3 linked regions of the Homo sapiens genome follow. The protein of the gene in region 1 purifies or fractionates together with the protein of each later gene. This does not show direct contact. Each region holds a gene or a part of one and is shown on either strand. Other genes may lie near its edges.

Evidence for each region. The genes of interacting proteins can lie anywhere in the genome.
Region 2: the proteins of TMEM255A (region 1) and GCA purify together in Homo sapiens (affinity purification with mass spectrometry; 3 studies listed by BioGRID and IntAct, with this or other methods). This does not show direct contact.
Region 3: the proteins of TMEM255A (region 1) and ANKRD13D purify together in Homo sapiens (affinity purification with mass spectrometry; 3 studies listed by BioGRID and IntAct, with this or other methods). This does not show direct contact.

The regions. Positions count from the first base shown.
Region 1 is NC_000023.11:120,272,609-120,281,433, forward strand, and holds part of TMEM255A (transmembrane protein 255A), read right to left. Parts: intron 4,440-8,825; coding exon 4,277-4,439; intron 925-4,276; exon of another isoform or gene 544-924; intron 1-543.
Region 2 is NC_000002.12:162,339,180-162,348,302, reverse strand, and holds the start of GCA (grancalcin), read right to left. Parts: upstream 4,172-9,123; 5' UTR 4,055-4,171; coding exon 4,028-4,054; intron 3,936-4,027; exon of another isoform or gene 3,707-3,935; intron 726-3,706; coding exon 561-725; intron 1-560. UniProt on the Homo sapiens protein: Calcium-binding protein that may play a role in the adhesion of neutrophils to fibronectin. May play a role in the formation of focal adhesions.
Region 3 is NC_000011.10:67,298,649-67,304,155, forward strand, and holds the end of ANKRD13D (ankyrin repeat domain-containing protein 13D), read left to right. Parts: intron 1-409; coding exon 410-476; intron 477-881; coding exon 882-963; exon of another isoform or gene 964-973; intron 974-1,178; coding exon 1,179-1,240; intron 1,241-1,344; coding exon 1,345-1,475; intron 1,476-2,341; coding exon 2,342-2,499; intron 2,500-2,633; coding exon 2,634-2,750; intron 2,751-2,839; coding exon 2,840-3,003; intron 3,004-3,083; coding exon 3,084-3,175; intron 3,176-3,470; coding exon 3,471-3,684; 3' UTR 3,685-3,836; downstream 3,837-5,507. Other genes in the region: SSH3 (protein phosphatase Slingshot homolog 3), read left to right, coding at 4,978-5,043, 5,470-5,507. UniProt on the Homo sapiens protein: Ubiquitin-binding protein that specifically recognizes and binds 'Lys-63'-linked ubiquitin. Does not bind 'Lys-48'-linked ubiquitin.

The DNA of each region.
Region 1 (8,825 bases):
CTCACCTGTTGCCATGTAAGATGTGCCTGCTTCTCCTTCTGCCATGATTGTAAGTTTCCTGAGGCCTTCTCAGTCATGCAGAGCTGAGTCAATTAAACCTCTCTTCTTTATAAATTACCCAGTCTTGGGCTATTTTTTTTTTTTTTTTTTTGAGACGCAGTCTCACTCTATTGCCCAGGCTGGAGTGCAATGGCACGATCTCGGCTCACTGCAACCTCCACCTCCCAGGTTCAAGTGATTCTCCTGCCTCAGCCTCCCGAGTAGCTGGGATTACAGGCATGCACCACCATGCCCGGCTAATTTTTGTATTTTTAGTAGAGACAGCGTTTCACCATGTTGGCCAGGCTAGTTTCAAACTCCTGACCTCGTGATCTGCCCACCTCGGCCTCCTAAAGGGCTGGGATTACAGGTGTGAGCCACTGCACCCGGCCGGGCAGTTCTTTATAGCAGTGTGAGAATGGACTAATACATGCACTTTACCTGGGTTATCACATCAGCCCTCACAAGTCCACAGGTAGGTGCTACTAGTGCTGTTGTTTACAGGCTGCAGAAAATTTCAACGCTACTTTTGAAGATCAACATTAGGTAAACAAATTTGCAAGGAATATGAGTAGAATCACAGAGCTGAAGGAAGAAACAGAAGTTAAAAGGAAACAACTCCACAATTTAGAAGTTGTTTGCAATGACATCATGCTTGCAGATGATGACTGCTTAATGATACCTTATCAAATTGGTGATGTTTTCATTAGCCATTCTCAAGATGAAACACAAGAAATGTTAGAAGAAGCAAAGAAAAATTGGTAAGAAGAAACTGATGCCTTAGAATCCAGAGTGGTATCAATTCAGTGAGTGTTAGTAGATTTGAAACTTCAGTTATATACAAAATTTGGGGGTAACATAAACCTTAAAGCTAATGAAAATTAAACATTTTATAATACTTTAAAATTTTGTTTAACAATCTTGAATATTGTTTGGAAAATAAAAAAATCTGCAAAAACTTGATAGATATTTCTCCAAAGAAGATATACATACAAATTGCACACAAACATATAAAAAGATGCCCAACATCACTGGTCAGCAGGGAAGTACAAATCAAAACCACAACAAGATACCACTTTGTGCCCACTAGAATGTTTATAATTTTTTTTGAGAAAGTGTTGGTGAGGATGTGGAGAAATTGGAACCCTCACACACTGCAGGTAGGAACGTAAAATGACACAGCTGCTGTGGAAAACAGTTTGGCAGCTCCTCAAAAAGTTAAACATAGAATTACCAAATGACCCAGCAATTCCACCCATAGGTGGAAAAAGAATTGGAAGCAGGTAATCAAACAAGTACTTGTAAGTGATTGTTCATGAAGGCACTATTCTCAGTAGCTAAAACATGAAAACAACCCAAATGTATATCAATGGATAAAAAACTAAACAAAACGTGGTCTATCCATACAATGGAATATTATTCAGCCATAAAAAGAAATGAAGCACTGATATATGCTACAAGGTAGATGAATTTTAAAAACAAAAAAAATATGATAAGTGAAAGGAGCCAGACCCAGAAGTTCGAATATTGCATGATTCCATTTATAGAAAATACCTGTAATAGGTAAATCCATAGGGACAGACAGCAGATTAGGGGTTGCTGGGGCCTCAGGGAAGGGGCAACAAGGAGTGATTGTTTAATGGGTACAGGTTTCAGGTAATGAAAAAGTTCTAGAACTAGACAGAAATGATGATTGCACAACATTGTGAGTGTACTAAATGCCACTGAATTGTACACTTTGAAGTGATCAATTTTATGTTTGTGACTTCCACCTCAATTTTTTTTAAAGGGGGACAGTGAGGGAAAACGGGACTAAAGCTAAGGCTAAAAGCTTGGCAGGGTTGTGTTCCTTAGCATATCATCTTCCTATTCCTCCCTTCTTTCCAACTTCCAGAAATTTCTTGAAAGTGTCCATCTAGCCACTCTCCCTGTCTTCCTCAGATGCCCTTTGCCTTCAAAATCCAATTCTTTCCATCACCATGGAAAAGGGTCTTATCAAATCCTTCACACTGAGAGACTAGTAACTCAAAGTATAAACACCTCTGTGGCCTACTAGCCTATTCCTTTGTTTAATACACGCATCTTGAAAGTGGACAAGGAGAAAAAGGACAATGCTTATCTTAAAGTAAGGAATAAAACATGGTGGCAGTTTCAGCGCCCACAGTAGGGTAAAATTGGAGAGGGGGAAGCCTTACAGGCACCCCACAGAGCCTACCAAGTAGCTACCACCTACTCCATTTGTGCATCAAGGTATCTCTGCCATCCAAGCCTGAAAGCTCTAGGGACAATTTAGAGAACTCTTAACACTCATCCTGAGGTCCCATCTCCTCAACTCGCCAAACCTGGGAGCTTCTCTTCCAGCCAAAGCTGCTGAGATTCCACACAATACCTGTACTTTCATCTGCCCCCTGGGGAAATTCTCCAAGAACAAAGGGCATTCTTTTCTCCAAAGAAGCCCCAACCCAGAAACAGCTTTTTTTGCAGCTCTCTAACCTAAAAGCTTCCTCAAGGCCAAATTTACAGGAAATCCTTTTCCCTCCTGGGGCTCCACCTTTGTTGATGCTTCCCCTACTTGTTAGTGCTTGGGCATTCCAGAGTCTGGGGAGGGAAGCTGGGAAGAGAAATGTGCGGATGAGAGAGGGAGAGAAAGAAGAAAGAGAGAGTGCAGATGGGCAGGAAAGGATTTCTCTTGACTTAGAGTCACTAGCAGGAACACTTAATAGTTCCAGTCAGCCCAGTACTGCTGGAGACTTGCAATCCAAAACGACAGAGTTTCTTTCTTTTCCCTTGTCCTACCCCACCTTTCACTTTCCAACATTCATCCTTTTGACCGTCCAGGATCAAATTACAAACTGCCTTTCAGGTTCTGTTCTTCAGGGACCCCAAAATCTGACAGAAACAGCCAAGGGCCTAGGAGCTAATTTCTGGGGTCAAAGGAAAGTCCCTCTTAGGCACAAAATAATTCCATAAACAGATGTGGGATGTTCATTTAAAGCAGTGGTATTCAATCATGGCTGCAGATCAGAATTACCTGGGAGCTTAAAAAAAAAAAACCAAAAAACCAAAAAACAAAACCTGATGCCTGGGCTTCAGTTTAGACCAATTAAATCAGAATCTTTAGAGAAGGAGCCCAAGCATTTTTTTTTTTTTTTTTTTTTTTTTAGAGACAGGGTCTTACTCTGTCACCCAGGCTGGAGTGCAGTGGTGCAATCATGGCTTACTGCAACCTCAACCTCCTGGGCTCAAGTGATCCTCCCACTTCAGCCTCCCAAGTAGCTGGGACTACAGATATGTGCCACTACACCCAGCTAATTAAAAAAAGTTGTTTTTTCTTAATAGAGACAGGGGCTGTTGCTCAGCCTAGTCTCAAACCCCTGGGCTTAGTCAATCCTCCTGTCTTGGCCTCCCAAAGGGCTGAGATTACAAGCATGAGCCACCATGCTGGGCAGGTGATTCTTATATGAAGCCAGGTTGATAACCATAACTCAAAGCTATTATCTCCATAATTAGAGATCTAGATTTATCAAATAAACAAATAAATGCTTAGAAATGCCTTAGAAGGAAAGGAAAAAAAGAAGCCTACTATATGGAGTACCTACTGAATGCTGAGTCCTGCTGTGCCTTTGCAGACACACACACACAAATAGAAAAGATTTGGAAGGGAAGAATGGAAAGTGGGGAGGCTGAGGTTGAGGTCCAAGTTGAAGGCAAGACCTGGCAAGCAACTTAGCCTAGAGCTGGCTCTGCGAATGCAAACAGAAAAGAGCCCAGATGCTCTTTCTGAAGAAACTTCACTATGAAATACCTGGGGAGGGGAAGACTAGCATTAATCCTACCTATAGCTAGAATAACCTTTCCTTCCATCTCTCCCAAAGTTTGTTAGGGGAAAACTATTCCCAAAAAATTTTACTAAAAGTGTGGGGTGGGGCTATAAAAGACTATGTTTACATAACCAGTGCGAATGGGGGAACTGAGAACACCCCTTCCTCCTTTCACCCCCCACCCCTAGAAGGTGCCTCCAGAACACAGGTAATTTGTGTATAACAAGAAATATTTGCAGACTGATGACATTACCTGGCTCCTTCAACTTGAGACATTTGAAGGCAGCTACATCCTTGAAGCAATTGCTTCTGATTCTTCCCTTCAAAATATGTGTCTGCATTTCCCCCAACTGCCTAGCCTTCCCCCTATGTCCAACAGGGGCCACTGTGAAATGCAAAGTCAATTCTTTCCTTACCATGTCCTTAAAGCCTCCAAGGACAGCGGCAGTGATGATGCCCAGGAACAGGCCAACAATGTTGAGGATGGTGGCAGACCAGAGCAGGTGGTAGAGGTGGATGATATCTTGGCAACTGCTGACATCGATGTATTCGTAGTACCCACCAGTGATCTCCACCCGGCTGGACAGGGAGGAGCATGCTCCAGTCAGTCCCCAGGGAGCAGGCTGTCCTCCCCAGCCCCCTCCCCAACTCTGGGATTGGGCTACCATACAGCTCAGTGAAAAGACAGGTGGGCAGGTGGGGAGCTACAGTAAGAGACATCATAGCCATGTACTATAATAAATCAAAGTGTGATTGTTTATCCCCACTCCCCGAAAAAAAACTCCTACCTGCCAGAAAAATACTTGTAACCACCACTAACACTAATCCTAGATAGCACTTATTGACACTTGCTATGTACCAGGCACAGTGCTAAGCATTTCACATGTGTGAATTCATTGCATCTGTGCTGTTTAATGTGGTAGCTACTAGCCACATGTGGCTATTTAAATTTAAATTAAGTAAAATTAAGTAAAAAGAAAAATTCAGTTGGTAAGTCTCACCAGCCACATTTCAAGTGCTCAATAGTCACATGTGGCTAGTGTTTACTATACTGGACAGAGCAGGTTACAGAACATTTCCATCATTGCAGAAAGTTCTGCAAATCCTCACAGTATCCTATCAAATAGGGACTATCACCATGCACATTTTACAGATGAAGAAAGTGAAGCACAGAGAAGTTAAAGAACTTGCCCAAGTCGTAAGTGGTAGAACTGGGACCTGAATTCAGGCTTCAAAGACTTCAGTGTGTGCCCTCTCAAAACAAAACAAACAAAAAAACAAACAAATAAAAACCAATGTCCTGGTAAACAACTAAAGCTGAGTTGCTACACAAAACCTGAAAGTCGCCTCCGTGGGGAGGCCTTTCTTGACCACTCTGTCCAAAGACACCCCTTCCCAGCCCTGTCGCTCTCTATCACATTATCCGCTATGGAATGAATTTTGTCCCTCCAAATTCATGTGTTAAAGCCCTATCCCCCAATGTGACTGTATTTTTAGATAGGGCTTTTAGAAGATAATTAAAGTTAAATGAGGCCACAAGGGTGGGGTCCTAATCGGATAGGATTGGTGGCTTTATAAGAAAAGGAAGATCTCGCTCTCCTCCTCCTCCTCCTCTTTTTCCCTCCTTCTCCCCTGACTTCCCTACTCCACGCCCCTCCCCCACCCACCCCCGACCCCGACTTTCGTTCTCTCCCTCCCTACTTGAATGTGAAAGGAAAGGTCACTGTGAGCACAGAGGGGAAGTGGCACAAGCCAGGTAGAGAGCCCTCACCAGAGCTCGACCATGTTGGCACCCTGATCTTAGACTTCCAGCCTCCAGAAATGAGAGAAATAAGTACATTTCTATTGTTTAAGCCACCTGGTCTATGGTATCGTGTTATGGCAGCCCGAGCTAAGCAATACATCACCCTTTTCTAATTTCTCTGTAGCATTCATTCCCATATGAAAATAACTTACTGATGTGTCTACTACGTTATTGTCTGCCTCCCCAACTTGAACGTGAGCTCCATGAGGGCAGGAACTGGTTCATTTTGCTCACTGCTGTGCTTGACACACAGTTGGTGCTACATAAATACCTGTGGAATTAATTAAATGAAAGTTCCTGTCCTCCTGGATGTCACAAACTAGTTTACAACTTGGCCACTGGAGTTCATCACGAATCTAAAACACTTAAAGTCACAACGAAACGCCCTGGCATTAGGATGATTATTACATGTGACTCCCCTGCTATAAGAATGCAAAAAAGAAAACAGAAAAACAATCAAAGGCTGATCTCCAAAATGAATCAGAGAGGGACTATTCACATATGAAAAGACTTAAACTTTACAGATGAATTTATCTTCAGATTCTTTAAAGTCAGTGTTTCTCTAAGGAGGTGAAGTCAGTGTGGTTACAGGGCAGACTGCATCAGAATCATCTGTGTTTGTGTCTATGTGTGCCTGCCTGTTTGTATCAGTGCATTATTTGTGTGTGCCTGTGGGTGTCTCTGCGTGTATCTGTGCATGTATCTTTGAGAAAGAGAGATGGTTAAACATGCAGATTCCTAGGCCCAGCCCCAGTCCTACTGAATCTGGTAGAATCTCTGGTGATGGGGTCAAGAATCTGTGTTAACAAGTTCATCAATGTTTGAGACCCACTGTTTTTAATAGTAAGCTTCCGTAGTGGAATTTTTTAAAAAAATATTTTTTGTAGAGACAGAGTCTTACTATATTGGCCAGGCTGGTCTTGAACTCCTGGCATCAAGAGATACTCCCACATCAGCCTCCCAAAGTGCTGGGATTCCAGGTGTGAGCCACCACACTTGGCCCATAGTGGAATTTTAAGGGAGTTTCAATTAATCAGAGTTTGAATTGGATTTCAGTATTTTCAGGAGCATATCTCAAGAGCCCATGCATAAGCATACATTGTCTCCTATTAGCTGGCATTGTACTAGGCCCTGGGGACAGGGCAGGGAGGATGCACAGATTATTTACTGCCCCCAAAAACGGACAGCTGTACAAGGACTATTCTCTGAAAAGGACAGACCTGTGTGTATGGGTGAGTGTGGAACTGCAGGAGCACCTTTGTAGCTTGGGAGTCAACTTCTGACATCCCCCAAATTATGTTTGCCTGCCTCCTAAAACACCAAGGGTGGACTAGTAGTATATATAGGCAGGCAGTATGCCATAGCTGACTCTGAAGTCAGACTGTGTTCGAATCCTGGCTCTGTCATCTATGCTCTGTCACCAGATGCTGACTCTAGCAACTTACTTTCTTACTCTTAGGTTACTTACTTTACTTAACTTCTCTGAGCCCGGGGGATGTAATGCCAACAGGCATGAAAGCAGTACTCCAACATATAATAAAAGCCTCCACTAAAATATGTAGCTACATTTTGTTCCTTCTAAGAGCCAGCCTCTGGCAACACAATTCAAACCTTTGAACCCTGTTCTTAAAGGTATTAACACTTTATTTTGTTTTTTGTTTGTTTGGTTGGTTGGGTTTTTTCTTTTTCTTTTTTTTTCCTTCCTTCTTTTCTTTCCTTTTCTTTCTTTTTTTTTTTTTTTTTTTTTTTTGATGGGGTCTTGCTCTGTCACCCAGGCTGGAGTGCAGTGGTATGGTCATGGCTCACTGCAGCCTCAACCTCCTTGACTCAAGTGATCCTCCAACCTCAGCCTCCCAAGTAACTGGGACTGCAGGCTCACACTGCCATGCCCAGCTAAATTTTGTAGAGATGCGGTTCTGACATGTTGCCCAGGCTGGCCTCGAACTCCTAGGCTCAATCTATCCTCCCATTTCAGGCTCCCAAAGTCCTGGGATTACAGCCATGAGCCACTGTCCCTGGCCAGTATTAAGACTTTGTAGGCACAAACCGCAATATGGGAATAGGATAGTAGTTTGTTTTAAAATATTCAATAATTTTAGATAATATATACTTGGTTTCAGTTTGAGTGGTTCCAGCAGCCATTTAATTTTTTTTTTTCACTGAACCATGAAGGAAAAGAAAGCTAATTCTTAGATATGGTTCGGGTTTAGCAAATTAATGTGGTTTTTTTCTGCTTGAGATTCAGGATTCCATTTGGTTCAGTCTCTGGGCAGAGCTTCCTCTGAAATTGCACCTTTTGCATTCCCACTGCTCCCATCCTCATGCCTCCATCACTGTAAGGCTGTCCTGCCAGACCCCACTGCTGCCTGATTACTCTTCCTAAAACACTTTTAAAAATATGTCATTCACTTAATCAAAACCCTTCTGTGGCTCCCCAGTACCTTCAGGGGAGTGTTCAAATTCCTCAGTCTGCCAAAGTCCAGCCTCAAAATGGAGTATACACTCCAGCCAGGCTGGAGTCCACAGAAGCCCCACACTGGCTATGCTGGGTACTAATTCCAAACCTTTGCTCAGATTTCTCCCCCTGCATTGAAGGTATTGCTTTCTGTTCTCTGCCTATCCTAATCTCTCTCACTGCTCAAAGCTTCAATAGTGCCTTCTTCAAAGACGCCACTACCCATTCATTAGCTTTTTCCTTGGACTCCCATAGTCTATTCCTCTTAGTTTGGCACTTTGTATATATCAATAATTCAGTTATTTATTTAATCTAATATGTGTTGGTAGCGTATCAGTGCTAAATACTGTGCTGGTGCTAATGTTACAATCAAGGCCAAGGCCGACATGATGTTTCTGTCAAAATCGCAACCTCTTGAGGGCGAGGGTCGTCTCTTAACATTCCTTTGTGTCTCTCTCACTGCCTAGCACAGTGGTAGAAACATTAAAGGTCGTCAATAAATACTCGGTGAATGAGTAACTGAGTGCAAAGACTAATCACTGTATTGATCATGAGATTGATTACCCAATGTGGGCTTTTACCCCCTTGCTCTCAACGTTCTGGGTGGACCTAGAGAAACGGATAAGTTCTCTGTGTTTCAGTCTCCTACTTAACAAAGTAGGCAGCAGAAGATCTTAGATAAGGCAGGAGGGCATCCTTCTGCTCT
Region 2 (9,123 bases), on another chromosome or scaffold:
TTAGAAATATTGTTCCTTATAATTTTTTAAAGTGCTTCCTACTTTCCTAAAATTTCCAATAGTCATTTTTGCATGCTATAAAAGAATGTGCAGGCTAAACCTACTTAGCTTTGTGTTATCTATCACTCAGGGAGAGTATGATGCTCCTAAATGTCAAACAGAGTGAAGGAAATAAAAAGATTTAAGTGACAGAAAAATTATAACTCATAAGAAGATATATCTAAGTTTTGGTGGGGTGTTTAGTGACTAGTAAGAGGAGCCCCTTGTAGAAGAATTTCAGTAACGCAAGCATACTAGGTAAGAAAGAATCAGATTTCCGCACTATGGAAAACAATGTTTCCTCTTTTAGTCAAATGAACAATGTATCAAGCATCACATCAACAGACTTTTAAAATGAAATAATTATGACTATGCTCATCTCTGATCTCAGGAAAAAAATTAGTCTAGATACATATAAAATATAAATTTCATATACATTTAAAATGATACTCTAAATAGCTGACATTTCTCTTAAACAATAATTTTAAAGACATATTTATGCAATAAATTTAGCATCTCACCTGTCCAGCAACAGCACTGAAGTAAGTATACACGGAGTCACCAGCTGAGGAATAAGTGTCTGAATATGCTGGCCCAGAGTATCCATCGAGGAGTATAGCTGGGCCTGTTTCTGGCACTGGCTGTCCCATCTGCATTCCTGGCACCTGAATGCTAAAATTTCCAAACTATAATAGTGAAAGGGGAGAAGGTTAGTAATATAAATACTACCTATTATCTATGAAAGTTGGATTAAAAGAAATTATTAGAAGTCCGTCAAAAAGTAAACAGTTACCAAAAGCTTATAATCTTATCACAAAAATTTTAACTACAAAATGTTAGATGTCCTACATTAAGACATAATTCAATTCATCAACATATATTACCCAGCATTAAAAGAAGTATAAAAGAAAAAAGAAAGTTACTAGCCTCTAAGAACTTAATCTAAGAGGAACATGTACAATTTTAAAAAATGTTTACCAACATCACTGAAGTAAACAAAAAGTAAAACAATGCAAGATTTTACCTAAAGTAAAACTAAGAAGTAAACCTCAAGACACATACTTAGAAGAATATATGTGTAAATACAATGAAACTTTAAGTGTCAACATTTACAATATGTTGGGTATTGTATTCTTTACAACTATTTAAACTTAAAATAAAAACTTTATATGTCAATATAAAATATGGGAAAAGGGTATATAGTTTTTCAAAAATCTTTTAAGGGGCGGGAAGCAAAATGTTTAAAGAAACTGCTGTGGTTCTGGTAGTATCCTGAGGGATGACATAGAGTTCTGTATGCTGGCCTCCCACTTGTTTCTTTTCAGCCTATTGTGACTTATTACAGTTTATATATGTGGGATTCTCTGATGTTACAGATTATGTGATCTAGTTTTAACTAAAGCCATAACAAAATGGCAATAGTAAAGATTCAAAAACATGCAAAGCAACATGAAAGGCTTGGACATGAAAATATTGTCTAAGCCTTTCCTTACCCACATTATGTAGTAATAATAATAATGATCAATTTTGACTCATTTGAAACTGTCAAGAGGACAACTTGAAATATAAATTTATGTAAACCGTGTTTAGGGATGAACCTTGTTGGCCAGGGGCCCCAGTTCTCCTCCACATGGGCCCTTTCACATGGCTCTTCCACTTTTTCATAGCTTGGCAGTCAGCTTCTAAGAGAGAGAAAGAGAAGCTGCCAGTCCTCTTAAAATATTGAGTCTGGAACTGCCATGGTGTCTTTTCTACTGTATTCTACCAGATGAAGGTGAAACAGGCCCAATCCAGATTGAAGAAAGTGGAGAAATAGTCTGTGCCTTTCGATAAGGGGAGTGGTAAAGAATTGGTAACCATCATTAATCTGACCACCAGGTTCTCAAATTATGGGACTGGGGAAAGCTAATGCTGCAAATTGGGAAGGGAAAACAGATTAAAAGTTATTCCTAAGGACAGATTCTTCATCTTTGAATTGATTTTGTATGCTATTTCTTGTGTGAAAATCTAATCTGTTTAAGTTTTCTGTGCTTAAAATGTTTTTTTATTATTGAAAACACTGAAGCTTGTATAATACAACATGTACAAACAAAAACATGTAACGAAGTTTTAGATTGTTTCATTTCCTGTGACCAAAGTGAGAAACAAAGAAAAAAGTCCTTTACATTGAGTTATAATTTTTATTCGTATACAATTAGTAAAAAAAAGAAAATAATACAATTTTTATAAACAATTCTTAAAAGAAGAAAGTAAAAATCTATTGGAAATGCATCTCCTACAGAGATAAATCATGCACTTAATTAGATAAAAGTATACTATCAAAACAATTAGGTCTAGCAGCTGACATTTTATATTTTGTTAAAAGAATATAAGAAACATTAATAAGGCATGGGTTTCCTTTAACAGGATTTATAAACGTCTCAACTATCTTATTAATATTCTCCTACTAAAGAAATCATGTAAGTTTTATCCCAAAATTTTATCCAATGTATCTTAAAATATTTCAATTACATTTTTTAAAATCAGTGCCTCTAATCTATATATTGCTTCAGCTATTGAGGGTACTTCTCTTTCCGGCGATTAATAATGAGCATGACAACAGCTGAAAAGAGTTGTTTATTTTAAATTCATGGAAAAGGGGATTTAAATATTCAAAACACATACAGACGTTCTCTTTATTGTGTCGTGGAACTCTCCATCAAATTCAAGCACTCTGACAAAAGTGGGTAAGGAAGCACCAAATTATTTGAATGAAAATGTATTACTCTTGCCACCTCACTCTACCATACATATATGAATTCAGAGCATACCAAGAGGAGTAAATATACAAACTTCTAACAGATAGCTTCAACCAAATGAAAATACGTATACGCTAGGGACGTTTTTAAAGACCCACAGGTTTATGCTATCTTGATTAATCTTCGAAGGGGCTTTACTTTCCTTAGGTACCTTAAACTTCCTTCCTAAATTTAAGGACTGAGGAGGCATAGGCATTACAAAGTGGACGGTGCCAGAGGGGATTGAGGCAAGTCTTAAGGAAAGCAAATCAATTTTAGGAACAAGTATGTGTGGAAGTTGAGGACCTGGAAATTCATATCCTAAAACAACAACAACAACCACAACCACAACCACCACCACCACCACCACCACCACCACCACCACCACCACCATGAACTCCAAGGGGTAGGAGTAACTCTTTTGAAGACCACAACCATAGCCCAAAGTCAAGTCCTATATTAAAATCAGTAAAACACAATTTCTCTTTTTAGGTAAAAAACAAATAGAAAATATATTATATTCTACCCACACCGCAATGGATCAAACTACTGTTAACTCTGTTAACACAGCGTGTAGATCACTGACATCGATACTAAAGGTTTGGGCTCCTTTCTGAAAAGAAGGGGCTAGCCACCAGGACTCTACGATTATAACTTGCAACTCCCAAAGGTGATGCAGGATAAAAGTTATAACAAAGAGTAACTTCCCCCCGCCTGGGGGCGAGCGGGGGAGTCTAGAACAGATTGCCCTTCGTATAACAGTAAAGATTAGGAGTTATTTACCGTACACCTTAATTTATTCATAAGGAACTTAAAGAACAAGAAGTGGTCAGGAAATTCAAAAAGAGGATCTCTAGCAACACTGAGTGGGGGGCGGGGGAGGGAAGTACCACAAACGATTACTGGAACAAGAAGAGGGTGGCTTGTTCCTCCATTCCAGGAAATAAATTTCCAAACACACATTACTCCCTCGGCTCCACCAGGACGCTCCTCGAGGGTCCTCAACGACCAGAAAACCTGCGGCTCCAAGTCAGCCCAGGATCAATGCTCGCCCAGGCCCTGGCCCCCAACAGCCCCGGAATCCGGCGCCGCCGAGTACCAGGCGCGGACGCAGGGAGCAGGAGCCAAGGGCGGACCCGCACGTTGGCACCGCCCCCGGGGGCGCCACACCCCGCGAGGAAGAGGGACACGACCAAGCGGCTGGGACTCACCCCTCCTCCGTATCCCGGGTAGGCCATGACGAGCGGGACGAGCGGAGCGAGCGTCACCCTCGAGTCGCGTCCGCAGTGCTGGGAGAAAAAGCACAGGCGCAGGTGCAAGGAGGCGCAGCTGCAGGTGAGGCTGAAAGGCGCACTAACCGCACAGTTCACTCCTCCGAACCCGCCCCCTTCCGCAGGCCAGCCCCGCCCTGCACGGTTCCGATTGGCTGAGTCCCACACTTTGGAGCCAACTCAGCTGCAGTCCGCCCCTTCCCGCAGCCTAGCCCCACCCATCTCTGCCCTGATTGGCTACACCCCATCGGGAGCCCTCCAGTCCCTGCTCGACTCTTACTGGCTCCCTCAGGTTCTCGCGCGCTCTCCTTCTAAATCCCGAAGAAGCCTTGGCTGCTGCAACGGAATTCCCACTCTCTGTGGAAAGGTCTTCTACAAGCCTTCAACTCCTCAAGTTACTTTTCTTTCTAGAAACCCCAAACCGGCAAGTCTGTGACTTATTTTAACCAGCCCTCCACGCTTTTGAGCTGGACTTCAAAGACCCATCTGTGAATTTCAAAATTTTGCAGTTACATTTACTTTTGTGTAGTGTTGATGTCACATCAAAACTTTGCAACCAGGACCACACCTGTGGTCCAGGAGGAGTGCTTCTGCGCCAAAACCCACTTGAGGCCACATTGGACGAACAGGTTATTGATTCTGTTTGGTAGATAAATGGTGACCTGAATTGTGGCATGTTGGCAAATAAACAGGATATCTAGTTAAAGTTGATTTCCAAATAAACTTTTTTAGTGTAAGTATGTCCCAAATATTGCACAGGACGTGAACATACACTAAAAACTTATTTGCTGTTTATACACTGATAATATAGACGGTGTCCTGTATATAATCTGACTCAGCCTTTGGGCAAACTCTTGTTAAATGTTCAATTACTTTGGCTTATTAAGTAATAGCAATGGACAAGTCTGATTTATCTCTGGAACTCAAATGAATTTTGTAGCTCTGACTTTAAAAGGACAAGGCAGCTGTAGCTTTGGCTTATGAACAAATGAAAAAACCAAATGATATTATTTTGAGTTATCTCTGAAGAACAAGAGAAGGGCTAACATGTTTCTTAAAAATAAGGCTATCAAAAAAATGTTAACTATTCACAAAGGAAATCAGCCTTGCAGAGCTGAGTATCTGTTGTTCAGCTATGCTACAGAAGAGGATGTTGGACCTTGTGAAACAATTCTCAGAGGAAACAGCAGAGAGAAAGGAAGATTGCCGATGTCCTAGCTACTCTTGGGAAAGTGTCTGTAAGTTCCTTCAATGCTGTAAGAAATACTTAAGCCACTAAGGTTAAATTATTGGCATAAATAAATAGAGGGGAAGGGTAAAACCTACGTGGCAAAAGGGAAAAATGCATGGCTTATGAAGGTATCAAATGATAAAGCGCTAGAAAGAACAAACCATTGCAAAATTTTATTCCAACGGATTAACTACATATTCAAAGAACTGCTTAGGAAGGATTGAGTGTTTACATTTACAATGTTAGTCTGATTCTGTGGTCAAAATTTTTGTGCATCTTGTTTTCATCAAAATAGCCTTATTGATGCAGCTGCATTTGTGCAGTTGGGAGTTAAGGCCCCATGGGTTTCTTGCCTTTCTGCACATTTAATTGCAAAGATAGTATTTCCTGCCAGGGCAAAGTTTGGGTACGTTTGCTAGCAGCCTTCTTAGGACTTTCCTAAGCTTGGAGTTCTTCCAGTTGCATAACAAACACAGTGCATGTACAACACCCATCTGGCAGCTCCTCTTCGCCTTGTGGGACTTCAGAACGAGGGGAATCTATGGAAGTATGAAGCTCATGGTGCCTGTTGTGCTTTGAGTAATAAAGTTATTTGTCTCAGACTCAGGAATCTCACACATTCTGCCAACTTCCATGAAACTGTGGCACTCTACTTGTTTGCTTATAACTAGGGTAAAATATCAGATCCTTCATAGTTCCTGCCAATATATCTCTTAACTTAGAGAAAGGGCTACCAAAGAAAGTTCCTACCATGAAGATGCAGAGGAGGACTTTGAACAACACAGCATCTCTCTCTCTAAAACTAGTGTTTCAAATTTTAAATATTCTAGTATAAAAATTCAAATAAGGCCATAGAGTTTTTTTTAAATAACAGTAATGTTAATTTGCCTCCATGAGTCAAGTTAATACTGTATGAACAATAGCATTTTATGAAAATGTCATGTCTATTTAAAAAATTTGCTTTTTAAATATTTTTCTTTTAATAAAATCCTTCTTTACTTTATAAAAATAGTTATAGAGTGAATACGACGTACTAGGCATTGTGTGTTGTGAAGTGTTATTTCTCAAAACAACTCCATCAGGTATATGTTATTATTCCCACTTTACAAATGTGAAAAGTAAGGTGGATAATTGTATTTCACTACCCACAAATGCAGTTGCATAGTGACTAGCAAATCTGAGAGTATGGCTGCAGAATGTGGTTTCTTAAACATTGTATGTCCCCTTTTCTCTCCATCCCCAACCATAGTGCTGTATTTCAGAATATAATAAAATTGTTTACACCATAAAAGAAAAAAGGCTTTAAAAGTTTTTAAATGGCAGTAGAAAATATAACTAGAGAAATAGCCAAGGAAACACATTGTTTTGACCAAGATTAGCCAATTTAATTACTTCTCTTACACAGGGTACATCCTTTCTGGTGACTATAAAGCTTACAGGATTATGTCTAACTATGGAATTTCTTCTGAATCTTGGTGGCATTGGTCTTATCATAAGTTTAGATATTCAATTAACCAGCACATTTACCAGTAAAATGTAAACAATAAATTAACTGCAGTTCTTTTTCCTATCTGTTGCCACCTCATTTTCTCTTTCCCACTATATGAATGAGGGAGAGAAAAGAGTCACAGCTCCTCAGCAAATTTCAATCACAAACCCAGAGCCTACTTGCCTCATATAAATCATATATATATATATATATATATATATATATATAAAATAAATAAGACATACCAGCTAATGGAAACCAACATTAATGGAGTTTATTTTATATCACTAAGAAATTTCATTTAGATAGAACAATTCATTTACTCAATAATTATTTATTGAGCATGTATAATGTAACACTATTTTAGATGTGGAAAACATACATCAATAGGAGGGGAGGAATGTCCTTGCTTTTTTGGAGCTTACATTCTAGCAGGGAGAACAGACAATAGTAAGTAAAAATGATGAGTAAGTAAATTATAAACCATGTGAGAAGATGATAAATGCTATTGAAAAATAAGGAAACCTAAGTCAAGGTTAAGGGGTAGGGAGATGACAGAGTAGGTTGTAGCTCTAAATGGAGTACTTGGGTAGCTTTATTGAAAAGGCAAGATTTGAGCAAAAACTTAGAGGTCATGAATGAGTTAGACATTCTGGAGGTATCTGTAGGAAGACATTTCCATGAAGAACTAGAGTTAAGGTCCTAAAGCAAAACCCTGCCTGACCTATTTGAAGAATAACAAGGAGGCCAGTGAGCCTGGAATAGATTGAGCAAGAGGGAGAGTAGTGGAAGTGGTTGCAGAAGCGGGGACATTGGAGCAGATCATGCAGGGCTTCACAGACCATTTTAAGTACTTGCTTTTATACTCTGGTTGTGATACGGAGCCACCGAAGAGTTTGAAATCTAAGTGGGACATGATACGATTTAGGAAGGCTCACTCTTTCAGCTGTTGACAACAGACAGAAGGAGGTTAGTGTAGAAACAAGATCTGTTAGCAATCTGTTGGTAATCTAGAGATGATGGTGACCTACTAGGGTATAGCAGTTGAGATGGTGAGAAGTAGTGAGATGATTATTCTGTTTTTAAGGTATAGCCAGCAGGGTTTACTGGTGTTTTGGATTTGCCCTTAAATTACATGGTGAAGACTGGGGAAGGAGCAGTTTGGGATAGTGCCAAATCAAGAATTAATATTGGAGATGTTAAATTTGAGACGCCTGTGATACTAAGTGACTATGTCAGGCTGTTTATCTAAGAGGTTGCCTAGAGTGAACAGCTTCTGGTGAGGGTGCCTACCAACCACTCAGCATTTGCATCTTAACAGACCTTTCTCCAATTGATACACTGATGACAAGTGGCAAAGAATTTATTTTTAGAGAGGGAGGATTCCTCCAAAATGGCCCTAACAAATTGCTGATGCTGATAATGAAAGTGAAAGGGGACTAAGAAATTAAGGCCTCTTTGGGCATCATTGATTATAAAAATTAATTAATAATATAAATAGTTTTATGACTTAGAGGATTAAAGGTATAGCCAATTGCATATGGAAAATAATTCTGACGACTTCTAAATCCATATAACACTTAAGAAAGTACGTACACAGTGTCTGTTAGCTCAGGCTGCCATAACAAAATACCATAGGCTGTGTGGCTTAAACAAAAGGAATTTATTTCATACAGTTCTGAAGACTAGAAGTCCAAGATCAAGCTGCCCACAAGGTCAGTGCCTGGTGAGGCCTCTCTCCTTGGTTACAGATGGCTGCCTTCTCCCTGTGTCCTCACATGACCTTTGCTTGGTGCATGAGGATAGCCAGAGAGGGGGCAAACTTTCTGGGGTCTCTTTTTATAAGGGCACAATTCCCATCATGAGGACCCCACTCTCATGACCTCACCTAACTGAATTGTCTCCTAAAGATCTATCTCCAAATATCATCCCATTGGTGGTTGGGGTTGCAGCATGCAAATTTGGAGAGGGAAGCATTTCATTCATAGCACACAAAATCTGAAAGTTGAAAAAAGAGACACTTGATCATAATGTTCACTGTTGTTCTGTCACATTGATCTACCCTAGTATTTATCTATTTTATGCTAAAATGTATTCCTTAATTGGATTTCCAATATTCCTTAACATAGATTTCCTTAATTGATCTACATGCAATAATTATCATACTTTTCCAGAAATTATTCATTTTTTTAATATGGAATAATGAAGATATATATGTGTTATTTGCATAAGACATAAAAATATGACACTATCAAGTGAAGCCATCCAGTCATAATTTTATTTTAAGCCCGAAGTTGTTCCTTTCAGTATCTTTCT
Region 3 (5,507 bases), on another chromosome or scaffold:
AGCTTCAACATTTATCAACATCTTGCCAATCTTACTGAATCTATCCTTCCTTACCTTTTTTAAAAATGTTTCCTAGAGTGTGTCAAAGCTCATCCCAGATGTCCTAATGTTTCTAGTAAATGCTTCTGCACAATTCTAAAAGACAAGGATGTTTTTAAACCCAGCCCCGACACTATCATACCTCACAAGATTCATGCTAATTCCTCAGTGTCTTCTAGTCCCAAGTCCATGCTCAAGTGTCCCCCCCTGTCCAGGCACCCTCTTCAGGGGTCCTCCATGTTTCATAGCGAGAAGGGGCCCTGAGAGTTGGGCACCCCGGGCAGGCTGGCTGGAGGGGGCTTTGGAAAGGAAGGCTTTGGCCAGCGTGTGAGGGTGCAGGTCTCACCAGCTCCTGTTTGGTCTGTTTCAGGAACAAATGTGGTATCTGGGGCTGGCGGTCTGAGAAGATGGAAACTGTTAGCGGCTACGAGGCCAAGGCAGGAGAGGCTAGGGGTGGGGGGCTGGGGGTAGGAGATGAGGTCCAGGAACTCAGCTCCTCTCCACATCCATCCCAGAGTAGCCCCTGGGCTCTGGAAACCCTGAGCATTTGTGGGAACTCAGCGGGCCTGAGTGCCCAGCCCCTGCGGAGTACACAGGGCTCACCCACATCATGGGCCCCTACCCAGGGTACCGAGATCAAAAGAGGAGTGTGTTCCTCTTGACCCTGGGGCTGCATCTCCTCGTTGGTGACTTCCTGGGGTTCAGACCCTGCCACCTCCTCCATTTTGGGGAGCAAGATCTCATCTGTCTCTGGGACAGGAGGACCTGGGTTCTGCACTGGTGAGGCTGAGTGTGGGGAGCAGGCTCTGAGCCCCCAGCTCCCCGTGTCCCCTGCTCCCCAGGTGTACAGTGCCACCAACGTGGAGCTGGTGACACGCACACGCACGGAGCACCTCTCTGATCAGGACAAGTCGAGGAGCAAAGGTAAACCCAGGTGCGCCTGCCTGCTGCCCGGTCACACCGTGTGGTGGGGTCACCCTGGCCTGGGATTAGGGGCCAGAGTTTCCCAGGATGAGCTGGGAGGCCTCCCCATTCCCGTCTGACCCCTCTTCCCCCAGACAGTAGGCTCCAGGGGTGGAGGTGGGCAGGGGCGATGCGAGCATTGTGACCCCTTACCAGCTCCCACCCCTTCTCCGTAGCGGGGAAGACTCCATTCCAGTCCTTCCTGGGGATGGCGCAGCAGCATTCCTCCCACACCGGGGTGAGCCGGGGCTGGGCCGAGACAGGGCTGGCGGGGGGCCGAGCCTGGGCGGGAGGGCACCCTCTGTCACCTTGATGGCTGAGTCCGCCCTGGGACCCACGCAGGCCCCCGTGCAGCAGGCAGCCAGCCCCACCAACCCCACAGCCATCTCCCCTGAGGAGTACTTCGACCCCAACTTCAGCCTGGAGTCACGGAACATTGGCCGCCCCATCGAGATGTCCAGCAAAGTACAGAGGTGAGGTCTGAGAGCTGGCTGGGGACTTGCCTCGGGACAAGGGCTCTTGCAGACCCCTCTCTGGGCCTGTCATAGTTAGGGACCCACTCCCTCGGCTGGCTTCTCTCTGGACTCCACTCCTGGAGGGCAGGAGTCATGTCTGCCTTATCCATGGTCCTCAGCCCTTAGCAAGGGGCTTGGCACAGAAAACCGGTAGTTTGTCTTTGATGAATGGATGGTGCCACCCATGTATGGTTTTCTATTGAATTTCATGAGTACCTGCTGGGGCCAGCGTGGCACAGTGGGAAGGGCCCCCAGCGACGTGGCCTGGGAGTGGAGCGTCTGCCTTGGTGGAACAGAACAGTTACGCTCTTGCCTCGTGAGGAGCCTTGAGCAGGTATAGGCGGTAACAGCAGGCACAGTGCCTGCACAAGCCTAGCGCTCTCCCCACCATCTCAGGAGGATTCTCTTAGCCACCCAACAGTCGCTGGGATTCGAACCCTGGCAGTCTTGCCCTGGGGTGTGCTGGACATAAAAGTTTGGCAACACGTGAGCTGGTGACCAGCTCTGGGCTGAGGAGGAAAACGGGGCTGTGGGCCAGGCCCAGAGAGAAGCCCACAGCCTGGCACCTGGCCTCCTTGTCCAGACCAGATGAGCTGGTACGAAATCCTCAGGAGCCCCAGCCTGGGCCCAGGGAGGAGGGCAGCTTGGGCCACGTGGCCAGGACACCAGCTCCCGGGGGAGGCGGGCAGCGGCATCTGAGCAGAGCAGGGCACTCCAGGCCAGGCAGAAGGTGGGTAAAGGCAGCTGCCCACGAACCAGAGGGCAGTCCTCAATGGAAGGGCCACCAGCCGTGCCTCACCCATGTCCTGTGGTCGGCTGGGCAGGTTCAAGGCAACACTGTGGCTGAGTGAAGAGCACCCGCTCTCCCTGGGTGACCAGGTGACCCCCATCATCGACCTAATGGCCATCAGCAACGCTCACTTTGCCAAGCTGCGCGACTTCATCACTCTGCGCCTTCCACCTGGCTTCCCCGTCAAAATTGGTGAGAGGCTGGGCACAGGCAGCGGGAGGACCTCAGGCATGGCACCCTCCCTCAGCGCAGTCCCTGGAGAGCTGCAGGGGCCGGAGGCACAGGTGGCTCTCCGCCAGGGCTCAGGCGTGGCTGTCTTCTCACAGAGATTCCCCTTTTCCACGTGCTCAATGCCCGCATCACCTTCAGCAACCTGTGTGGCTGTGATGAGCCCCTGAGCTCCGTGTGGGTGCCGGCCCCCAGCTCTGCTGTTGCCGCATCAGGTACCCCAACGGGAGGAAGAGGGAGCCTGCACAGCTTTCTGGTCACCAAGCCCCGCGGGTTGAGCGTGGCCCCTCTGCCACCTGCCTAGGGAACCCTTTCCCGTGCGAGGTGGACCCCACCGTGTTTGAAGTGCCCAACGGGTACAGCGTGCTGGGCATGGAGCGCAACGAGCCCCTCCGGGACGAGGACGATGACCTCCTGCAGTTCGCCATCCAGCAGAGCCTGCTTGAAGCGGGCACTGAGGCGGAGCAGGTGGGACTTGCCCAGGGGGTGGGCTCTGGCCTCTGCAGCCACACGGCAGAAGTGACAGCTGTGGGCTCTGGTGGCTGCAGGTGACCGTCTGGGAAGCCCTGACCAACACCCGGCCCGGTGCCCGCCCTCCTCCCCAGGCCACGGTTTATGAGGAACAGCTTCAGCTGGAGCGGTGAGCCCCTCATGGGGCTGGCTGGGTCCCTGTCCCCCCAGCCCTGGCTTGGCGGGGAGGGGGATAGCAGGAAGGTGCTAGGACCCCAGGCCCTCTGCAAGGCCACCCTCTGTCAGCAGCGCTATCTGCCACCAAAGGTGGTGTGAGGGGTGGGGAAGCAGGGCCCTGCCTTGTCTCCTCTGCTTGCCACCCTGTCTTTGCCTTTGTCCTCCAAAGCCGGTCCCCAGCCCCTCGGCTTCTGCCCCAGCCTTGGCGCTCACTGGCCTGTTCTTCCCTCCCCTGCCCTGCCTGGAAGGGCCCTCCAGGAAAGCCTGCAGCTGTCCACAGAGCCCAGGGGCCCAGGATCCCCTCCCAGGACACCCCCAGCCCCCGGTCCACCCAGCTTTGAAGAGCAGCTGCGCCTGGCCCTGGAGTTGTCTTCACGGGAGCAGGAGGAGCGGGAGCGGCGCGGGCAGCAGGAGGAGGAGGACTTACAGCGGATCCTGCAGCTGTCACTCACTGAGCACTGAGCCATAGCCCCGGGAGGGCTGGCCAGGCCACTCCCTGCCCGCTTTTGTAATTTATTTATTTATAAACTCTCTGCTGCTGAGCTTGGGGCCTGGAGCCCCAGGAATGAGCAGGCAGGGGAGACTGAGATGGAAATAAAGAGACTGTCGCAGCAGGGCTGCTCTGCTCACTGGGCTGGAGCGGTGGGGACCCTGAAGGTGGGGCGCTGTGGAGAGGCACTGTGGATGGCGGCCTCAGACCTGGGCTTGAATCCTGGTCATGGTCCCCTTAGCCTATCTGAGCCTCAGTTTCTTCAGTTGTAAAATGAGGAGACCACCCCCCACCCTCCGCCCCTCAGGGCTGAAAGGAGCTGGCGAGAGTCACGTGTCCTTACCAAGCAGGCGTCCTGTGAAAGTCAGATCCCCTGTGCCCTGTCCCACCTGCTGGGGACCCGGTTCGTCCTGCCACCCAGCCTAGTCTTCTGGAAACCGGCCCACGTGCCTGCTGGGGAGGAAAAGCCTGGGTCCCCAGGCACCATTCACCTCCAGCTGGGAAGAGCCCCGACGCCGACCCCTGCAGCCAAGCCCAGGCCCTGGCCCTGACTGCGGCTTGTTCTCTGCGGGTGGGTTTGCGCAAGTCACTTCCGCCTGCGTAGCTGGAAGCCCTGCCCTGCTCGCCTCCGAGGTGGACCTGAGAGCCCCTCATGGGCTTCCTGGGTTATTTGTAAACCCCAGGCCGTTTTCCCCGGAAGCCTGTCTTCCAGTGGTTCCTGCGGAGTGGGAACGAGAAGGCCGACCAGCAGGGAGAAATGTTTGGGGTGGGGGCCCTTGGCCGAGGGCGCGCCGTGCCTGATCCTCTCTAGACCTGTCCCCCACCTCCCCACCTCAGCTCTGCCTCCCTAGGACCCGCCTCTGCAGGGCACAGGACGCTGGAGGCCCAGAACAGCTCAGGTGCTCCCGCTGGGCCGGCCCGGGCCGGGCGCTTCCTGGGAGGGGGACCAAACTCCCGGCCTTCAGCTCTTGCCCTCCGGGTCTCCGGGCTCCGCACCTGCGCCCGCCCCCGGCCTCGCCCCTGACCTGTGCCCAGGGGCTGGGCGGGCCGAACAGCGGAGACCGGAGGGGCGGGGCCCGGCCGCCCTGAGAAGCTCCGCGGGCCCGGCTGGGCGAGTGTCTGGCCCTTTAAGGGCCGCCCCCGAGGAGGTGCCAGGCCCGGGTGGCGCCGTCCGTCCTTCCTGGTCCTGCGGGTCCAGGACTGTCCGCGGGGTTGAGGGAAGGGGCCGTGCCCGGTGCCAGCCCAGGTGCTCGCGGCCTGGCTCCATGGCCCTGGTCACAGTGAGCCGTTCGCCCCCGGGCAGCGGCGCCTCCACGCCCGTGGGGCCCTGGGTGAGTGTGGTCCGGCCGTGGTGCCGCCCACGCAGTTGCTGCCCCGGCTTGGGAGCGCGTCCTGCCCGCCAGCGGGCTCCTCTCGAACGGGGACATGAGGAGGGGGCCCCGGGGCTCGGGCTGGAGGGCGCTGGGGGCCTCGAGGGTCTCTGGTACTGGCGCCGGGGCACAATCCAGAGCCCTGCGCGCCGCCCGGGCTGCGGAGGCCCCGATCTGAGCGCGCCCCCCGCCACACTCGGCGCCCACCCAGCCGACCTGGCCTTGGGCCGGGGCTCCACGGGGCCTCCCGGTGGGGCGTGGACTGGGGTGGGAAGACGATTGGCATCTGGCGCCTTTTCTGGCCTCCCCCAACTCTAGAATTCCTGAGAGAGGGGAGGGGACAGCCCTCCCCGCCCTCACCCTGCCCTGGGGCTGCTCTCTCCGCAGGACCAGGCGGTCCAGCGAAGGAGTCGACTCCAGCGAAG